Regions from separate parts of the Homo sapiens genome. Here regions 1 and 2 are each linked to region 3. The links come from fine-mapping of genetic effects on gene expression. A gene starts in region 3. Each other region holds a variant in brackets. All regions are shown on one strand. Distances are between the middles of the regions.

What was found. PIP is the estimated chance that this variant, and not a neighbour inherited with it, causes the effect. A credible set is the group of variants that fine-mapping cannot tell apart.
Region 1: its variant is the best candidate, but not a certain one, in a credible set for the expression of ASB1 in fibroblasts (GTEx, PIP 0.83).
Region 2: its variant is the best candidate, but not a certain one, in a credible set for the expression of ASB1 in whole blood (INTERVAL, PIP 0.88).

The regions. Positions count from the first base shown.
Region 1 is chr2:237,811,671-237,818,908 of GRCh38, reverse strand. RBM44 (RNA binding motif protein 44) reads right to left here. Exons shown (of 16, transcript NM_001080504.3): 2 at 5,227-5,317; 3 at 313-1,916; 4 at 1-8. The coding sequence starts at 5,299. Among named protein-coding and RNA genes, the nearest start is that of RBM44, 17 kb to the right of the region's middle. The variant C/T (reference allele first, on the strand shown) is at 4,248.
Region 2 is chr2:238,458,219-238,465,456 of GRCh38, reverse strand. It overlaps LOC107986003 (a long non-coding RNA gene), which reads left to right and starts at 4,594. Exons shown (of 2, transcript XR_001739969.2): 1 at 4,594-7,238. The variant C/A (reference allele first, on the strand shown) is at 3,537.
Region 3 is chr2:238,422,912-238,429,175 of GRCh38, reverse strand. It overlaps ASB1 (ankyrin repeat and SOCS box containing 1), which reads right to left and starts at 2,249. Exons shown (of 5, transcript NM_001040445.3): 1 at 2,057-2,249. The coding sequence starts at 2,105. It overlaps LOC124908002 (a long non-coding RNA gene), which reads left to right and starts at 2,282. Exons shown (of 2, transcript XR_007088163.1): 1 at 2,282-6,264. RefSeq lists enhancers at 1,501-1,620, 3,133-3,668 and silencers at 1,871-2,390, 2,411-2,800.

The sequences.
Region 1 (7,238 bases), 610 kb after region 3:
AGGAAATCCTGAAAATATGATTTAAAATTAAATTTAAAAAAGTTATATCTGAAATTCCAAACTAATAAAATGTACAATTCAATTTCTAATGGATTTTGTGGGAGGAGCTGCCAGGAGAGGAGGATAGAACTGGTGGTAATTTACACGTCTTTTTTTTTTAATTTACTTTTTAATTTACTCCCTTTTTAATTTACTCCCCTCATCTAGCATCTTCTCACAAAAGCCTTAATTCAACGAACCAAAAACACTTACATTAGCATACACTGTCTCTTTATAAAGTCCAAATTTTATTATTACTCATATTGATTTTACCTTATTTAGAAAATTTCCATTAGGTTTTAAACTGTCAACGGAGAGAGATTTTCCTGATCCTTTTGTTATAGCCATCTGTGTATCTATACAATCTTCACTGTATGACCAATCTGTACTACAAGCCACACTTTTTTGTTTCTCATTTTGCCATTCATCAGGTCGTTTTTTATTCATCATTGTTATCTCTGTGTTGCTTGATGTAGATACTACAGAAGGTCTTGCACTTGTTGCCCTGCTGGTTGTGAAACAAGCCCTAAAATCAGTGCTAACGTCCACTGTCTGATTAATTGTGACTGTACAACTTGCTGCATCTGTCAATGATTTAGTACACATTTCTCCTATATTGTGAAAGCATGTTTTCTTTGTGGTACTGCTATGAGCAACTTTTAGGGACGTATTATCTTCTATTGCCTGATTATCTCTGACTGCGATCTTTGGTAGCATAGCAGAAAAATCTAAGGCTGAGTCAGCAGTGTTTTGTAGGCTTTCATAATATCCACAGGCAGAAATTATCGAATCATCAAAAACAGAGGTCCAGGAAGTTTGACAATCTTTACAGGGTTGGAGTAATGTCTCTAAAGCTTTATCCTGTGGTAATGTGCTAGGATTTTCAAGGTGCAGTAATATTTTGTTCTCAACAATTTTATTTCCACAAAAATCTTTACCTTCATTTATTTGAGATTTCATGTTTTCAGTATAAATTTTCATTTTTAATACTTTTTGAGGGCTCAAGGAACCACTCTTAGATTGAGATTCCTGGTTTCCTGGAGAATTGCTTCTTAGTACACTGCCATCAAATACAGTGTGGTACATTGAATTAGTCTCTTGTTCCTTATACTTTTCATGCTTTAGGTCATGATATTCTCTTAACATAACAGAATTCTGAAATTTGGAGACATGAAGTGACTCTTCTTGTCCATAAACATCAAGTGAATCGAAAGAGATGATAGAACCACTTCCCGAGTTAACACGATTATCTTCTACATTGCTAGCACATTTAACTTCATAACCCGAATTTCCTAATTCAACAACTTCTGGATTAGATATATCTAATGCTTTTGTTTGGTCAAAAGATAAATGGTTACTTATGTATTCTTGTTCTTCTGCACTGTGATATTCCTGCTGTGAGTCTTCATCTGTATCATGCTTTTGTGTATCTTCAGCACTTTCTCTATAATTAGCATCTGAAATATTGTAGATTCTTTCCAAGCCAACAGTCTTATCTTGATGTTCCAAAATATTAAAAAAAACCTCCTCTTTTTTCTGCACTTCAGGATCTAATTCTGAACTTAAAGGAGTAAGACTTTCCTTCTTTAGTTTTGACTCTGAATAAGGTATAGAATATGTTTTATTCAAGAAAGCATAGTCAGTACTGTCTTCAAGTTCACTTGACTGAAACTGAGTACTCTCTGTGTTAGTATCTTGACTCACTGAAAAAAATGGCTCTAATAAATCCATTTTGTCAATATTGCTGATTTCTTTATTATTAGCTCTTTGCTCTAGTGTCGAAGAATTCCAGTCATCATCAGGAAAAGTCAATTTGACTTCATCACAACCATTGGAGGATAATAACAAATTTTCTTTCTTTGGATTTGAAGGTTTATCTGATTAAAAAAAGGATAAAAACATTAACAGCAACATTACAGAATCTAGACACTAGAAAAACCTTAGACATGATCTGGTTTAAGCTCTTCCCAATGCGGGATTACAATTTACATCATCCATGAAAAATATCCCTTTCAGTAGCAGCTAAAAACTGAACCATGTCCTCCCAAATGATGCCTTGAAGGCCAGACCCATATGTTGGAAATGGGGACTTGGAGAGGTAATTAGGTTTACATGAGGTCATGAGGGCAAGACCCTAATTATAGGATTAGTGTCCTTTCAAGAAAAGACCAAAAGAGCTTGCCTCCCCCTTCTCTCATGTGAGGACACAGCAAGAAGGCAGCCATCTACAAGCTAGGAAGAGACCCCTCACCAGAACCTGACCATGCTGGCACCTTGATCTCAGACTTCCAGCCTCCAAAACTATGAGAAAATAAGCACCTGTTGTTTAAGCCACTCACTATATGGTATTTTGTTATGGCAGCCTGACCTAAGACAACAGCTAAGATTTTCTTGAATTCTTTCGATGGGAAGAAATTTACTGTTTACAGGGCAGCCACTGTTTGTAAAATGGTCTAATAAGAAACTTTTTTCTTATAAATTTATTTAATAAATCTTTGGGCGCCTCCAGTGCTAGCTCTAGGCACTGTAAAAACAAAGAAAAAGAAGACACGGATGCTGTCCCCAAGTGCTTATAGTTTTCATAGGGTCATAAGGTAAGCACACAAAAATGTAATTTTAACACAGTGCTGACAGAGTTGTGTTGATGGAGCAGGTAAATTTTTGAAAAAAAGGGAAGCAGACTTCAGAAAAACTTTGTATTTAAAAAGTGTTTTGAAACAAAATAGACAAAATTATTTTAGGCAAATCCAACGCAAGTACAATTAGCCGTGTGAAAGAACATGGCATTTTCAGGAAATTTTAAGACTTGTCTGTAGTGAAAGAACTCTTACGAGTATGACAGGAATTATCAACTGAAAAAGGCCCTTTATGATGTGCTAAGAAGTTTGGCTCTTATTCTAAGGCAACCAAAAACCACTGAAAACTTCATTAAAGGGTAGTCATGTGACTGGAATTGAGTTGTAGTCATTCCTGGCAACAGAAAGATTAAAAACTTGAAAGAGGAGAAAAAAGGCAGGTACCAAAACAGAGGTGGGACTAAAGAAGAGACTGGTATGAAAGTTCCACAACTGACATGTCTTGGTGGCCAATTAGAGATGATAGTAAGAGGAAGAGAGAGAGCAGTGGTTTTCAAAAGATTTTTTTTTACTAAGATCATAATCGGAATTACATTTTGGTCATATCATGACCCAGTACACACATACATATATGTATGTGTATAAGTAAAACAAAAATTTTACCCATGTCCAATGTATTCTTGTATTTTCTATTTTATTCTATTCCATTTCTTTAAAAAAAATTCATCACAATCAGCTAAACTGATGTTATGACTTACCAATTGGCCAATAAATACTCACTTAAATATCACTCAAAGATAATGCTTACATGTTTACAACTTGGTACTATAGTTGAATGGGAATATTCAGGGCTAAAGAGATAGGGACTGTGTGAAGAGCAGATTAGAAGGTAGAAGGGAAAAATGAGGAGGACGATGAGGATAATGAGTTCAATTCTGGGCAAGTAGAGTTTGAGGTTAGTAATAAAACACCCAGATGTGAATGTCTGTCCAGTAAGCTGTTATAAATATGTGGTTGGAGACGACAGAGTTGTTTAGGAGTCTTTTATATATTCTAGATACTAATTCTTTGTTTTCTTTTTAACATTTGTAATATAACTGAATTTTCCTAGCTTATTGCTTATCTTTTAATTTTTAAAAATTATTTTAAGAGACAGGGTCTTGCTATGTTGCCTGGGTGCTAGACTTGCATCAAGCAATCTTCCTGCCTCAGCCACCCAAGTAGCTTGCCTGGCTTTAACTTTTTATAGTATCTTGTCATATCAGAATTTTCCAGGTTATTTAGTTAAGTGCATCAGTCTTCTGTAACTTCTAGGTTTTGTGTCTTTGGTCTTCTCTACCAAGTAATTATAAAAATATTCTCCTATAATTTATTCTAATTGTGTGTGTAGGGGGGGGTGGGGGTTAACACTTAGTCTTTTTACACTACACAGAGTATTATTTTCCTCTTTAGCATAAGGTAGAACTCTAACTTAACTTTCTTCCAAAATGGATGGTCAATTGTCGTAATACCATTTGCCAAATAATCCATTGTTTTCCTTCTGAGCTGAAACAACATCTTTATCATATTCTGAAGTCTTCCTGTTTCTGTTTCATGATTTTCTAAGAATTTATTTCTATTTATTCCACTCCA[C/T]TAACCTATTATCTTTTTGTATGACTGTATTACTGTTTTAATTATTATAGTATCACAGGTTATTTTTATATCTGGTAAGTTTTTTCCTGTATTTTAAAATTTATTTTACCTTCTCTTCAATAGATTTTTTTAAGTTTATTTTTGGGGGACCATTTTGAATTGCATAAAATACCCTATTGGGATTTACTGAGATAGAGAACCATTATCATGTCCAATCTCCAGTAGCCTTTCCCTAGATTTCCAACATTTAATGTATGAATACAAAGTATACTGTTTATTCCATTAGGGTTCATGAATGACATCTTCATTGTATAACTTTATCACTTTAAAATGACCCTCTTAATCGTCTTACAATGCTTTCTGCATTGATTATGCTCTTTACTACTATCACCCCAAATTTTTAAGTTAATTTGTTTAACTTGTCCATCCTTTTATCCTAAACCTTTCTTTTCTGTTTTAAATATGTCTCATGAACAATGTAGAGTTTTTGTTTTAATCTAGAATATATATATCTTAATAGTTTAAGCTACATACAGTCATAAGCACATAAAGTTTAGTCATCTTGCTTTTTAGACTCTTGCTATTTCTTATTTTCTTGCTGCCATGACCCAGGAAAAATACATTTCAGATTTATGGGAAGAAGAAAACATATACAACTTGGGCAGCAGAAGTCAACCTGCTCACTTTCTGATTATCACCCTGAAGGCAGTTATACCTGTCAGCAGTTCTTGAAAGGCTGGCTGGACAGAAATCCTTTCTTCCTGCTCACTTTCCCTTTCCTAAAGAAAGGTCCTGCCTAGACTGCCCTGATCCACCAAAAATCACCTGAGTCAATTTGGCAAGTTAAAAATATACTGAGTCTTACCACCTTAGAGGGAGGAAGAGTTAAAAAGCAGCAACCTGAAGGGCAAACTGTCTGGCACAATACATTTAACACCCTTCCCCACCAAGAATAAGGGTAAGTGGACTAGACCCTTACCTTTTTGGAGGTTGCCTCCATTACTGTGGTAGCCTTTACCAGATGCTGTCTCCACCACTGCAGTGGCCTGCATCATTCAAAGATATATAATCTAGAAAAGGTATAAATATTGAACTATTATTATACTTAAAAAGCATAAATTGACAACTACATAAAGGACAGAAAGATATGTCCTTTTAAAATTTCCAAGGAACATTTTTTAAAAAACCAATGCATTAGGTCACTAAAAGAAGTTTAAATCTAAAAAATTGAGTCTTAAAGACCATAATATCACCCTATTTATGTCGAACCTAGATAAAAAGTTTCCAAGACAATTTGTACACTTACTAAAAACCAATGACTTGGCAAATCCATACAATGGAAAATCTTTCAGCAACAGAAAGAAATAAACTATTGATATATGTTACCTCATGGGTTAATATCAAAAACTTGCTGAATGAAAGAAGCTAGATAAAAAAGATCACCTATTGCATAATTCCATTTAAGTAAAACGTCCAAAGCAAGAAAATGTATATAGAGAAAGTATATTAGTAGCTGCCTGGGATAGGTTGTGGGAGATGGGAAGAGAGATTAGCTATAAATGGGCATGGGGGATAAAAATGTTCTAAGACAGGTTTATGATGGGATGGTTGTGACACTTGATAAGGTTACTAAAAATCACTGAAATGAGTAAAATATAACTCAACAAAACTGTTTTAAAAAGGTAATAATGATGACTTTTTATTAATACATATTAGATGTACATATTTTGGGGGTACATGCAAGAATTTGGTACATTCATAAAATCAACTCAGGGTAATCGGGATATCCATATAATGACTCTGAACCCAGCTGCCACATGAAGCAGCCCAAGCTAATTACTGGTAGAATATCCCAATGGACACATGAAATGATCCCAGAGGCGACAAGCAGAAGGAAGTCCAGCCAACTCACAAAATCATTTTGAGCCTCTGTCCCCTACTTATTGTCACTCTCCATACCCCTAAAAGCTGAGGTATCTACAGCAGAATTCTGTTAATCAAGTGTTACAAAGGTTCCTGATGAATTTGGGGAAAAAAAAGGAATTCATTTTGTTTTAACTCTGAATTATTTCAATCACTGATCCTGAAAAAAATCATCTAAATGTACTGTCTCTGTTCTACAAGGAGAAGATATTAAAAAGCAGATCTCATGTCATGGAGACAGCCTTGAATCCTGACTTTGCCACTTAGTAAGCTATGTGGACTTTGATAATTAAAATAAATTAATGACAATAAGAATACAGACTACCAAAATCTACGGGACATGGTCAAAGTTACATCCAAAAGAAGTCACAGCTTTAGATGCTTATTATTAAATAAAGCTAGAAATAAATGAATTAAACAGTCAACTCTCAAGAATCTAGGAAAGAACTAAAAATAAGCCAAAAAAGTTTAAAATGTAATTAGTTAAGACAAAAACAGAAGTGATCACTTTAAAAATAGTAAAAATGGTAACTAAAATGGAGAGCTATTCTTTTAAAAGACTAATAAAAGTAGGTAAATAACAGGCTGGGCGCAGTGGCTCACGCCTGTAATCCTAGCACTCTGGGAGGCTGAGGTGGGTGGATTGCATGAGCTCAGGAGTTCGAGACTAGGCTGGGTAACGTGGTGAGACCTTGTCTCTACTAAAAATACAAACAATTAGCTGGGTGTGGTGGCATGTGCCTGTAGTCCCAACTACTTGGGAGGCTGAGGCACGAGAATTACTTGAACCCGGCAGATGGAGGTTGCAGTGAGCTGAGATTGCACTAATGCACTCCAGCCTGGGTGACAGCGCGAGACTCCAAAGAAAAAGTAGATAAAAGACAAGACAAATCTCGTTAAGAGAAGACTGAAACAAAAATGAGCATTGAGAAAAGGAGCATTTTAGCAAGCAATAAAGAGGTACTTTTAAAAATTGAGAATGCCATGTATGCCACTGAAGGATAATTTTAAAATTTAACAAAAATAGGCAATTTTCTAGGAAAAGTTTTTTTTTTTTAAAGACTCAGA
Region 2 (7,238 bases), 36 kb before region 3:
TGGAACCAGGAGACATGATATGCAGAAGACTGGTCCCTGGAGAGCAGAGACTGAAAACACTGGAAGAAGGAGGGTGATGATCACTGCATGCCTCCTGCCTCCACAGGCAGAGGTGAAAGAAGAGGAACCTGAAACTGACCATTAGAATATGGGGCCCAGGAGACCCCGGTCAAAAGCACAGCATTCAGAGATCCAACAGTGGGAATACATTGGAACTCAGGTTTCCAACTGATAATCTAATCTTCAGGGGACCCACCTTGTGTATAAAGTTCTCTTTCCTGTAGGAAACAAAGAATAGCTTAAATACCTGAGGCCTTGATTCCGTTAGGCCTGTAACATCTCCTGACTTCCACCAACAGAAGCTGGAGTACCTGGGGGTCACAGAAAGCTTCTTTCCTAATTTTTTTAAATGTACATGAAAGTGAGTCACATAGGAAAAGCCTGCTGGGATTGTCCAGGCCATGCACTGTGTGGAAGAGGCAACTGCATGATAGAAATCCTGCATTTCTGCAATGCCAAGAGACATGGGGTCCACATTTTACCACCTCTGATGCCAGGGTGCGTCACACCAGCGATGGCGGTGTCAACTGTGATTGGCATAGTCAGTGATGTCATTTATCAACACTGGTATCCCGGATGCAGTGAAGCGTGGGCCAGACATGATGCTCCGTGTCTGAGCTGCATTGCGTCGTTTATCCCTCACAACATCCCACAAACGACATCGCATTGGCAGCCCCACTTTGCAAATGAGGAAACAGAAGCTCAGTCAGCTATAAAACGCTCCCAAGGCCCCCCAGCTAGGGCATATTAGCACCATAATCTTAGCCCCGCTGGCTCTGAAGCCTCAAGCTCTAACTAGGATGCCACAGCACCACCCTCATTCAGGGTCCTGGGTGTGGCGGGGAGCGGGAAGAGAGGTGGAGGAGCCATGACAGCCAGTGCTCACTGAGCATCTCTCAAAAGACAGGCATCGTAAGGTGCCTGCCTGCTGGCCCATCCAGCTGTCCTAACAACCCTACCAGGCAAGCACTGTGTTATGCTTCCCATATTGAAATGAAATTAAGAAAACAATCCCATTTACAATAGCACTAAAAGGAATAAAATACTTAGAAATAAATTTAACAAAAAAGAGCAAGACATGCACCCCCAAAACTATAAAACATTACTGAAAGAAATCAAAGAAGACCTAAATAAATTGGAAGATATCTTGGGATAATGAATTATTAGACTTAATATTGTTAAGATGGAAATATTCCCCCTAATACTCAATGGATTCAACACAATTACTATAAAAACCCCAGCTGCCTTTTTTTGAAGAAATTGACAAGCTGATCCTAAAATTCATATGGAAATGTAAGAAACCCAGAATAGCCAAAATGATCTTGAAAAACAACAAACTTGCAGTACTCATACTTCATGATTTCAAAACTTATTACAAAACAACAGTAATCAAGACAGTATTGTATTGCCATAAGGTTAGAAATACATCAATAGAATTGAGAGTCCAAAATAAAACCTTATATTAATGGTCAATTGATTTTCCTTTTTTTTTTTTTTTTTTTTTGAAATGGAGTGTCCCTCTGTCCCCCAGGCTGGAGTGCAGTAGTGCACTCTTGGCTCACTACAACCTCCACCTCCTGGGTTCAAGCAATTCTCCTGCCTCAGCCTCCCGAGTAGCTGGGATTATAGGCACCCATCACCACCCCCAGCTAATTTGTATTTTTAGTAGAGATGGGGTTTCACCATGTTAGCCAGGCTGATCTCAAACTCCTGACCTCAGGTGATCCACCTGGCTTGGCCTCCCAAAGTGCTGGAATTACAGGTGTGAGCCACCACACCCAGCCATGGTCAACTGATTTTTGACAAGGGCACCAAGACAACTCAATAGAGGAAAGAATAGACTATTCAACAAAAATAATTGCTGGGAAAACTGGATATCTACATACAAAAGAATGAAGTTAGGCCCCCTACCTTACACCATATGTACACATTAATTCAGAGTGGATCAAAGACATAAAATGTAACAACTAAGAGACTATAAGACTTGGAAGAAAGCATGGGAGTAAACCTTCATGATCTTGGATCGAGCAATGGATTCTTAGATCTGACATCAAAAGCACAAGTAAAAATGAAAAATAGATAAGTTGGACTTCTTCAAAATTAAATGCCTTTGTGCTTCAAAGAACATCATGAAGAAAGTTAAAAGAAAACCTACAGAATGGGAGAAAATATTTGCAAATCAAATATCTGATAAGAGAATCATATCCAAAATATATAAAGACCTCTTCTAAGTAACAATAAAAAGACAACTCAATTTTAAAACGTGCAAAGGATCTAAACATACATTTCTCAAAGGACATATGTAAACAGCCAAAGAGCACATGAAAAGATGTGTGGTAGTATCACTCACTAGGGAAATGCAAATCAAAACCACAGTGAGATACCAATTCATCCCCACTAGGGGGAGTAAAATCAAAAAGACAGACAATAACAAGTGTTAGCAAGAATGTAGGGCAATCAAAACCCTTGTGCATTGACAGTGGGAATGTAAAATAGTTCAGCCACTGAGAAAACCAGTTCAGCAGTTCCTCAAAAATTAAATATTGAGTTAATATATGACCCAGCAATTCCATTCCCAGGTATATACTGAAGAAAACTGAAAACATGTATCTATATAAAACTTTGTACCCAAATGTTCATAGCAGCCTTATTTGCAATAGCCAAAAAATAGAAACAACCCAAATGTCCATGGACTGATAAATGGATAAACAAAATGTGGTGCATCCACAGAGTAGAATACTATTTGGCCATGAAAAGGAAGGAAATTCTGACACATGCTACAACATAGGCAAACCTTAAAAACATCATGCTAAGTGAAAGAAGCCACTCACAAAAGGCCACATATTATATGGTTCCATTTACATAAGTATAAATGGGATAGATAAATCCATAAACACTGAAAGCAAATTAATTGTAGCCGGGCCCTGGCAGGGACAGAACTGGGGTGTGAGTGCGAATAGATATGAAGTTTTTTGTTGGGGGTGATGGAAATGTTCTGGAATTAGACAGTGGTGATCAGCGCACAACTTTGTGGATACGCTAAAAACTGTTACACTTTAAAGTAGCATACTTTAAAATGGTGAACTTTATGGTGTGTGATTGTATCTCCACAAAGGCATGTAATTCGCTGCCACCAATGGCATGGCCTTGCTCAAGAACTCTGGAGGAGGTCCAGGCATGGTGGCTGACACCTGTAATCCCAGCGCTTTGGGAGGCCAAGGCAGGAAGATCACTTAAGGCCAGGAGTTTGAGACGAGCCTGAACAACATAGTAAGACCCTGTCTCCACCAAAAACAAAAAAATTAAAAATTAGCCAGATGTGGTGGTGAGCAACTACAGTCCTAGCTTTCCGGGAAGCTGAAGCAGGAGGATCGTTTGAGCCCAGAAGTTCAAGGCTGCAGTGAGCTATGATCGTGCCACTGCATTCCAGCCTGGGTGGCAGAGTAACACCCTGACTCAAAAAAAAAAAAAAAAAA[C/A]AAAACACCTCTGCGGGTGGGAGGTGCTGTACTGGGTGTCTCGTACTGTGGCTCGGTCTTGTCCAAGACTCCTCAAAATATTTGTGTATCTCCCATACCCCAGGGCAGTACTCACGTAGTGGACATTGATCCTTTTGAGGAATGGCTAGCAAAACCAAGACTGCCTTGATCCCCACAGCTGTCGCTTGTCCACTGACTCAAGTCCCATCACAGTCCTCCCTCCCCCACCAGCCCACCCCTGACAGTGTAACTGGAGCAGTATTTCTAAAATACAGATTGGGCTGCATTACTTCCTTTCTTGAAACCCTCCAGCTGTTCCCCATAACCAGTCCTAGTTAAATGGCCTCATATTAGAATCCACTGGGAGGGTTTCTAAAACTATTGAGGCTCAAGCTCAACTCCCAGAAATTCCGATTTTACGGCTGTGGTCAGCAGGTAAGAGGCTCCCGGGGATGGCCACATCCTAGTTCACAGAAGCTGTGAATATGCTGCTCTAACTGGGGTTGCCGATGGAATTAGTGTGGCTATTCAGTTGCCCTTAAGAGAGGGAGATCATCCTGGATGATCTGGTTGGCCCAGTGTCATCACAGGGTCCTAAAAAGTGTAGGAGGGCAGCAGAGTGGAGCTCAGAGTGATGTGGTGTGGGGAGGACCCCCAGCCAGGACTTTGTTGCTGGCTGTGAAGATGGAGGAGGGGGCTACAAGGCAAAAATGTGGGCAGACTCTAGAAGCTGGAGAAGGCAAAGAAATGGAGTCTCCCTGGCATTTCCAGGAAACACACAGCTCTGCCCACATCTTGATTTTGGCCCAGTGAGGCTCATGTGGGGCTTCTGACCTATAGAACTGTAAGATAACAAATCTGTCTTGTTTTAAGCCACAAAGCTTGTGTCATCTGTTAGTAACAATAGGAAACTAACACACAGTTGATCCAGACAATGCCCAGGCATCGGGAGCTTTTTAACACACCTCAGGCACTGTGCAGCCAGAATTAAGAACCACTGACCAATGGTAATATTCCTCAGCTTTCAGCATTCACAAACACAGACTTCTCATTTTAAATAGACATTTTTAATGATCACCCATTTTAATAAATAAAACGTTTTTTCATTATTGTCAACTACCTCACTTTCATTTCTGAGAGGGATGAAGGGATGACCTTTTTGCACCCTTCACCAAAGCATCTGTGTCTGGTTCAGTGATGGCTAAGTCCAGCTAAAGCACAGGTCTCACTTCCAGGCAGTTTCTTTGCTTATTCTTTTTTATTCCTTTTTTAAACTAAATCAGAAAATTTTAGCCTACAGTTACAGGTTTTCAGAAATGACACCCATCTGTGAGACGTTCTGAACATTTGGATCAAACGTGATGCTAAACCTTTGGAGCTGTCCCTGAGGATGACTTACAGCGTCATCAGACACCACACTGGCCCCCCTCGCAGCCTGGAGACTGGGACAGAGCGGATTGGGGGAATGGCAGCAGATGGATTCCTTGTTCACTCTTTGAAGCATTTCACTCTAGAAAATATTTTCTTCATGTTCTGTAGCTGCATTTGGACATGATTTTTAAAATATGCCAATAACATCAATTTCTCCAACAAAAGGCAGTGGGTTAGAAAGAGCCCTTGTAAGAAATCCTGGTACTAGCCAGGCATGGTGGCTCACACCTGTAATCCCAGCACTTTGGGAGGCTAAGGCAGGTGGATCACTTGAGGCCAGGAGTTTGAGACCAGCCTGGCCAACATGATAAAACCTCATCTCTACTAAAAATACAAAAATTGGCCAGGCATGGTGGCTCACGTCTGTAATCCCAGCTACTCAGGAGACTGAGTATCACTTGAATCCGGGAGGCAGAGGCTGCAGTGAGCTGAGATTGCGCCACTGCACTCCAACCTGGGTGACAGAGACAGACCCTGTCTCAAAAAAAAAAAAAAAATCCCATTACCTGACATCACCACCAATTGTGGTCTCTCGCCTTGAAGCAGAAGGTTCACACCACTCCACGTACTGGATCCATCAATGAGGCACGCCCCAGGAACAAGCCACATGGCTCTAACTGCTTATTTGATTGTTTGACTGAAACTTGAACTCAGAAATGACCTACACTTAACAAGGTTGAGATGCTAGAGCTTTCCCAGCATGGAGGAGGGATTCCAGAGGCGTAGGGAGATGGGACCATTGGACTGGGTTTAACATGTGTGACCCGCACACCTCTCTCTCAACTACACACTGCAAGAAGGCTCCAAAGCACTCTCACTTTCACTTGGGCACTGAGAAATGCCTGGGAGCACCTGCATCCCTGAGAAGCTTTGCAACTGCTCTCTTTGGCAGGCAGGTGCGATGGCAGGGACACTGCCACTGAGCTGGGCTCTCTGATTTCAATGGGGATGATAGGGTTCCAAAGGAGCAGAGGCCAAATGCCAGGACTTGACCAGCAAAGACCAGGCGGCTGCGTCTGCCAAGGGAGGGAGCAGACACACGCTGGGGATCAAAACACCCTGGTCCGCAGGGCTCTTTGCCAGTGGCTAATTGAACATGGTATCCCTAGGAATACAAGAGGACTGACTGACGGAATAAAGCAGAAAACCTTAGGTCTGGGAGCCAAAAATCTGACTTGAGTCACAGCTGTGGATAGCAACAGCCTCTCTCCCAGTTCCCAGACCTAGCTCAATTCACAGGCCAAGATTCTTGAAAGTAAGGCTGGGTCCCCTGAGGAAGAAGCCTGCAACACTGCTTCAAGCACATGACACGCCTCCTCCTCCAGCCTGCAGATCATTCCCCAGTGCTCTGCCGGGATCCAGGAGCACACCTTCCTTGCCAGCTGGCACAGGGCTGATGAGCCTGTCAGTGGGCGGCTCTGGAGGGACACTGGTAAGAGGAAGGGGTTTCTCTTCCTAGTTCCACTGTGCTTTCCTTCCTTCCGACTCCCTTGGCACTCGCGGGTATGTGGGACGCCAGTGGAGTTTACCTCCAGCAGGTTTCAGCAGCACCCAACACGGAGCATCCTGGCTGAGTTCTGCGGCTGTCCCAGGCCTCCCAAAAAGTTCAGCTGCCCCACAGGCAGCCGCCCAGCATTCCCCGGGAGCCCAGCCTGCTCCAGCTTCCCAGCAAGTCCAAAAGCATGCCCTGCAAGCAGCTGTCCCGCAAATTTCTTTGGCATCCCAGCAAGTAATTTCCTGCCCACAGCTTCACCCTACCAAACATGAAGCCCTGGCCCAGGGCAACCCAGTGAACTTCTCCACCCTGGACTAGGCTGCTTTCGATTATTCGCTCCGCCCATGAGAGTGGCTGTGGGACACAGGTCTGGAGGTCCTCAGCATTTCTGTGCACTGTCATCTCACAGAGCAGCTACTGAACATGTGTGAATGCCCGGTTAGAAGGGGCACCTCCCCTAGGTTTGCTGCAGTCTCCCCCACTCCCAACTATTCAGACCTAGTATTCCTGCACTATGACTCCTACGTGGCCCCAGCAAGTCTTACCATCAATGACACCGCCCACCAGCTTCTGCACTTCAGGGCACCTGGCTCCTGGCAGTCCCAGGGAAAAGCTTCCCCACACGGAACTGGAATGTGTGAGACACATCCCTGGATACAAGGGACCAAGCTCAGGATGCCCCAAGACGTGCTGGGACTGTCCTACCAACCACTCTCTCCTCAGGGTGGCCTGGGCCCAGAAACAATCCTGACATCCATCCAGGCCACAGCACTGAG
Region 3 (6,264 bases):
ATCTCTTTTCAGTACTACTGTACATGAGACTCAACCACAGGTGAAACGGGGGTGATGAGTAAGTGTCCCGGCTCTGCAGGGTTTGACAGTCCACTGAGTTGCTCATGCTGATCCCACAACCAGACTCGCCGCAGATCAACAAGCCGGCATGAACAGCTCTTTAAGCCACCACCCCAGTCTTCCTTCAGTAACTATCCTCCCCTGTAATTACTCCACAGTTGCGGTTACTACAGAGTGAAAAAGTTCAAAGTCGGAGTGGGAAAGATTCAGGTGTAGGGCAATAACCAACAGGTAAATGGCGGCCACAGGACTTTTGCTGAGCCCTCTTCTGGGCCCCCTCTGCTGGCCTCTGTGCTATCCATTCCTGGCCCTGCTCAAAGTAGACTCAGAATCTTTCCCCAGCTCCAGATTCAAAAGCAACTTCAAGTTTGTGTTTCGCTGATCAACTACTCCAATGACAACACAACTGCCCCAGGATAGCACTTAAGCTTCAACTGAAAATCTGTTGCCCCTCTACCCGAGGCCGAAACACACTGAATAACAAAACAGCAGTGCATGAGGATATAAAAAGGAGCCCTCAGCTGAGTGTGGTGGCTGCCGCCTGTAATCCCAGCACTTTGGGAGGCAGAGGCGGGCAGATCACCTGAGGTCTAGAGTTCGCTATCAGCCTGGCCAATATGCCAATATGGTGAAGCCCCGTCTCTACTAAAATACAAAAATTAGCCGGGCATGATGCCAGCACCTGTAATCCCAGCTACTAGGGAGGCTGAGGCCAGAGCATCGCTTGAACCCCCGAGGCGGAGGCTGCAGTGGGCCGAGATCACGCCACTGCACTCCACCCTGGGCAACAAGAGCGAAACTCCGTCTCAAAAAAAAAGGAGACCTGTGCAGCCGACAAAGCCAGTGTTTATTCCCCAGGAACTCTCTTTATACTGGGAAGTAGCTGTTGGTCCTCTTTTTCCCACGGAACACGCATCATTCCGTCTCTCACTCTCACATGAGATGACATCCTAGACCCTAAGGTCCTGGCTGTCTCTGAAGTCAAAGTCAACGCCAACCAAAGCCCAGGATGGTAGATGCTTTGTCTGGCTTTTTCTGGTCACTGCAGTATCCTCTGCTGGGTCTAGCCAACAGCAGGTCTTCAATACAAGTCTGTTAAATGATTGGAAGGAGGTGCAGAGGGAGGGATGGATGGAAAAGCCTATCTGCACCAGTCTCCAAGTCAATCTTTTAAGATGTTTAAGAAATGTATTGGTTTATTACTAAGTAGGAGAGGAACCCCTCCAAAGACAAATATAGGCATGTAAAGAAAGCCCAGAACACACGAAACTATTGGCGCGAATGGCAAGCTCAGAAATCCAGCAAGAAGGAACTCCCACCACACCACCGGGAAACGGGAACCTGTCCTGACCGCTTCCTTCACATCTGCATGGTAGGGACACTGCAAGGTGGAGACCCTAAGTAGGACAGTTATTTTGGAAGGTGGGTGTGAGCCTTTCTATCTGCCTCCCTTGCTGGTGGGCCAAAGGCCCCTGGACATGTTGTGTCACTGACGAGCTCGCTGGAGACGGCGTCCCCGTTGTCCCTGGTCTGTGCCTGTGGTGGGTGGGAAGGCTGCCCCCCGCTGTACCACCGGACACGCCGTGGGCGGCAGAATGGTGAAAAAGTGCCTGCCCTCCCTAGGGCTACCCTCTGGCTGGCTTTCCTGATCCGTGCGCTCAGAGCTGGAAGGTGGCCCACGTCCTACTTTTGCGGTTGGGTCATATCAAATCTGTATCGGCTAACGGGAAGGAAGTTACGAGCAAGTTCCACCGGAAAGAAAATCTAGCGCGGGGACTGCACTCGAGGCCGAGGAGAGGGCAGCGCGTCCGTGGTGGGGTCGCCCAGCACTGCGAGCCGCGCTGAACCCCACCCCCGGCCTGCAGGGTGCGGCTCCCTGGCTGCCCCGTGGACCCGGCCAGCCCGGGACGAGGACGCAGGACCTCGGCAGGGACGCCGGAGCCAGCCCTTCGCCATCCCCACACGCCCCGCGGCCCAGTGGCCGCGCGCACGTTACCTGCGGAGCCCGGCCCTGCCCGCCCGTCTGGGCTGCCGCCCTCCGCCATGGATGCTTCCGCCTCCGCGGCCGCCCCTGACCCGCGCACGCCCCTCGGGCAGGAAGCAGAACGACCCGCGACCACTTCCGGCGCCGAGGGCAATGGGGGGCGCGTCGGGGTCGCGGCTTCCGGCGGGCGCGCGCCGGCCTCACTGGTTTCCGGGGCCGCGCAGGGGCCACGCCTCCGCTTCCGGCCTCGCTGTCTAGCAGGGCGCTGGCTGGTCCCTTCGTCCGGCGGGAACTTCGCGGCTAACCGACTCTCTGGATGCCGGCCGCGCTGTGGTTTCCTCACATAAGAAGCCAAGGAGTCGGAAAGCCCGTTGCCTGAGGCAGCAGTCTGGGAATTTCGGTCCGGCGGGCCGTCCCCACCCACACGGACGGGGCGTGGCTTCTGCCAGATGTGGGCGGGGCCCCGAGGGCCGTGGCGGGCGGGACCCGGGCCTCGGCCGGGCTGGCTTGGTCCCCGCAGGTGCCCCCCGCTAGCCACGAGCAGCCCCGGGAGGGTGGATTCGGAGGCGCGGGGACTGGTGAGGGCCCACTGCAGGGCTGAGCGTCGCAGCGTGCTGTGGTTTTAGATGAATGCTCCTCCAAATCCCTTCCATGAAGCCCTCAATCAGGTCGGTAACTGATGACAGCCAGTGGCTGACGCGAAGTTCATTGAATAAATGAATGCATTCGTGAACAACCGAGTAACATTTCTTGCACACTCCCAACTTCAAATATCGCAGCGTCGTCCCACCATGAGTATTGGTGTTGGTCCTAAAGCACGGATTCCCTTGGCTCCTCCCATTCTCCCCTGCTGAGTTAGACAGCGGGGCCTCATGCAGGAGGAGGATTTGTACACAGCACAGCAGGAGGCTGATGAGGGAGTCCGGAGACCCCAGCAGTCGTGGGCGTGAGCTGCTGGCTCATCCGTGTGTACAACATTCCAGACTGGAGTAAGGGAAGCCGCAGGCGCAGCCCCGCGAGTGCCCCTGCTGAGGCTGGCCCTGGGTGGCCCAGATGCACCAGGGGGCCCACTGGGGGCAGACCTGGCAGGCCCTGTGGGGGTTGGAGGCGGGAGTGGGGGTACTTCCTACAGTGGTGTTTGGTCTTGATGACAGCAGAGAGCACCACTGGCATGAGGGACAGGTGACTCCGATGATGACGCTGCCAGGCCAGGAGCCAGGGGTGTGCCCAGCCCCTGGCTCCACCACAGCTGCACATCCCGAACTCGGAGCTTCAGCAACTCCGAAGCCTGAAGCCGCCTCACGTGTTGTTGGATGGATGAATGGATAAACGAAATGCCGTCCATCCATACAATGGAATCGTACTCAGCCTTAGAAAGGAAATGCTGTCCGTCCATACAATGGATTCGTACTCAGCCTTAGAAAGGAAGGGAATCCTGACACACGTCACAACACGGATGACCTTGAAGACGTTATGCTGAGTGAGATAAGCCAGCCACAAAAAGACAAATACAGTACTGTGTGATTCCAATTATTTGAGGTCCCTGGAGCAGTGAAATGGTGGAGCGGAATGGGGGTTGCCAAGGGCTGGGGGAGTGGGGAATGAGGAGTTAGTTTTTCATGGGGACAGAGCTTCAGTTGAGGAAGATGAAAAAGTTTTGGAGACGGGTCACACAGCAATGTGAATTGTGCATTAACAGTACTGAACTGCGCATTTAAAGCAGGTTAAGTTTTATGTTCTATATATTTTACCACAATTGTTTTAAAGAATTTTTTAAAAGAGGTTCCGGTGCAGTCAGTCAGGGGTGCGGGTTGGGTGTTGGGTGGTTCAGAGCACCCAGGTGATTCTAAAGTGCAGCCTGGTGAGAGCCACGTCTCCGGGGGCCTCCGCTGCTCTGCCTGCCTGGTCCCGGTGGGCTCACAGTGAGCGTTCTGCGTGTCGGTAGCCTTTGCATCAAGGTATTGAGTCCCTGAGCAGAGTGGCCCTCCTGCACCTGCACCTCCACCTTCCCTGCCACGTGTTGCCCTTGGGATCCTGCCTCTTAGAAGAACCTGAGGCCGCACGTGGTCTGTAGCGGGGAGGTGGCCTCACATGCCCACCTCCGTGCCTCCTAAATGCCCACATGGTGCAGGGCAGTGTCCACAGAGCCAGCAGTGCTGGAGGGGGAAGGACACTCAATTGCTGGCCACTCTGCCAATACCATCACCCCCATTTCTCAGGACCCTGAGATCTGGGGGCCTGGTGCTATGCCCAAAACCACATAGCCCACAGGTGGCTGAGTTGGGATCACATCCAGACTGTCCAGCCCTACAGCCTGTCTCCCCCTCTGACCTCACCTCTCCAGAGTCCCTCTTCTTCCAGGTCCTCTGAGCCCAAAAGACCCACCAACACAGGGACACTCAGTGACCGCTAGAGATGAAGCAACTTGGGTCCCATCACCTACAAGCAACAGGGATTTACCAGTGCCTACCAGTGCCATCCCAGCCCAGCACAGCAGCAACAGGACCAGTGCAGTGGGCTGTCTTGCCCCTCCAGGTCCCAGTGGCTCCCTCCCGTTTTCCCACCCCTAAAATCACCCGTCGCTTCCTGTTGCCTCCTGGAGGCTCAGGCCTCCCCCAAAGTGTCCCCAGTGACCCCTCTGTGGAGCCTAGCCCAGTCTTTGTGGTGGAAAATTTGGCAGTCTAGCTAAAGCATAAGAATGAATAATCCTTGATCAGAAATGCCTCTTCCAGGCATTCATTCTAGGGAAATAATCAGATGTGGGGGAGATTCAGCTACAGTAGTGCTCATTACCATCATTTTATAACAAAAATGTCCAACAATGGACTTTCTGGTTCAGGAGGTCTGAGAAGGGGCCCCCATCCCTCATCCTTCCTGTTGCAGGGAACTGGGGGCCCCTCTGGAAGCATGGCAGGTATATGGGGGGCTGGAAACATGAGCTCCACAGCTGCAGGCTGGTGAGGATCCTGCTGGGCCTGGGTGTGCTGGTGCTGCTGTCGCTTAACCCCCACAGCTGTCTCCGGGAATTGGGCAGCAGATGTCACCCAGGCAGGGACCAGAAATGGGAATCTCTCCTGATCCTAGGCCCTGTGGGCCTGTGTTTGGGGTGTCTCCTCCCAGGAGGCCCAGCCCTCTCTTCCCCTTTGAAGGATCTCCTGCTTTGAAGGAAGCAGGGGATCTGAAGGTTTACCAGGTGAGGCCACGAGATGAGGGCAGCCCGCTGACCCTCCAGGCTTTGCCCTGGAAACATCTTTACCAGCCCCTGCCCCGCAGACCCTGTCTCAGGCCTTGGAGCCCACCTGCAGAGAGTCAGGGTGTCTGCCCCAAGCTAGGGAGGCAGATCCACATCCTTCCAGCTGAGTCACCAGGACAGGGTGACTCCTCTGAGCACCAGCTGCCTCCCTGTCAAATCGGGCTGATAATACCCACTTTGCAGGCTTTGTAAAGACACAAAATCCCATAGAATGTGCCACAGGCTTCCTGGGGCAGAGAGAGCCTCAGGACACAGTGGGCATCGGTGCCATGGCTGCTAACGCTATGGCATGGCTTTGCTGAGTGGAGCCACGCCCACCTCCAGCCTCCCACCCCACCCCACCCTGTCCTAAACTGAGCCCACCTTCTCTGCCCAGCTTGGAACAGAGCAGGGCTCAGGGGTAGACGCAGTGTCCCAGCAGGCCCTCAGCTTGGGGCTGGTGGGGCTGGGCAGGGCCCAGGCCGTGATGTTCCTTGCAGCCCTCGAAGCCTCCCTCTTCCAGCCAGGTCGGCCTCTGCCTGGATGTGGTTTAGCCTGGCAGTGGAGGTCCCAGGGAGGACCGGGAAGCCCAGCTGTGGGGACTGCAGAGGACAGTGTGGGCCCTGGGAGTCCTGCCAAGGGGGTGCCCTCTTTCAGCCCCCCTCACAGGTGCTGTGCTGCCTCCCTTGGTGTGACCGAGAACTCCACTAGTGTCAGGAGGCCACAGCGCTCAGTGAGCCCCTGCATCCTCTACCAGGGCCTGCGTCTCTCCAGGCAGCACCTGTGGAAGGCAACTACCATGTGCTGGTCACTGCCACAGCGGGAGGAGTCAGAGGTGAGGAAATCTCAGTCCCAGAGCAGGGACTGGCAGCAGAGACAGGAGGTTTTTAGAGACTCTTCGGCCACAGCGGGACCAACAGCCCAGCTTGCCCAGCACTGAGTGGGCCTCAGAACACAGAGCTGCCAGTTTTCAAAGCAGGGTGAGTGG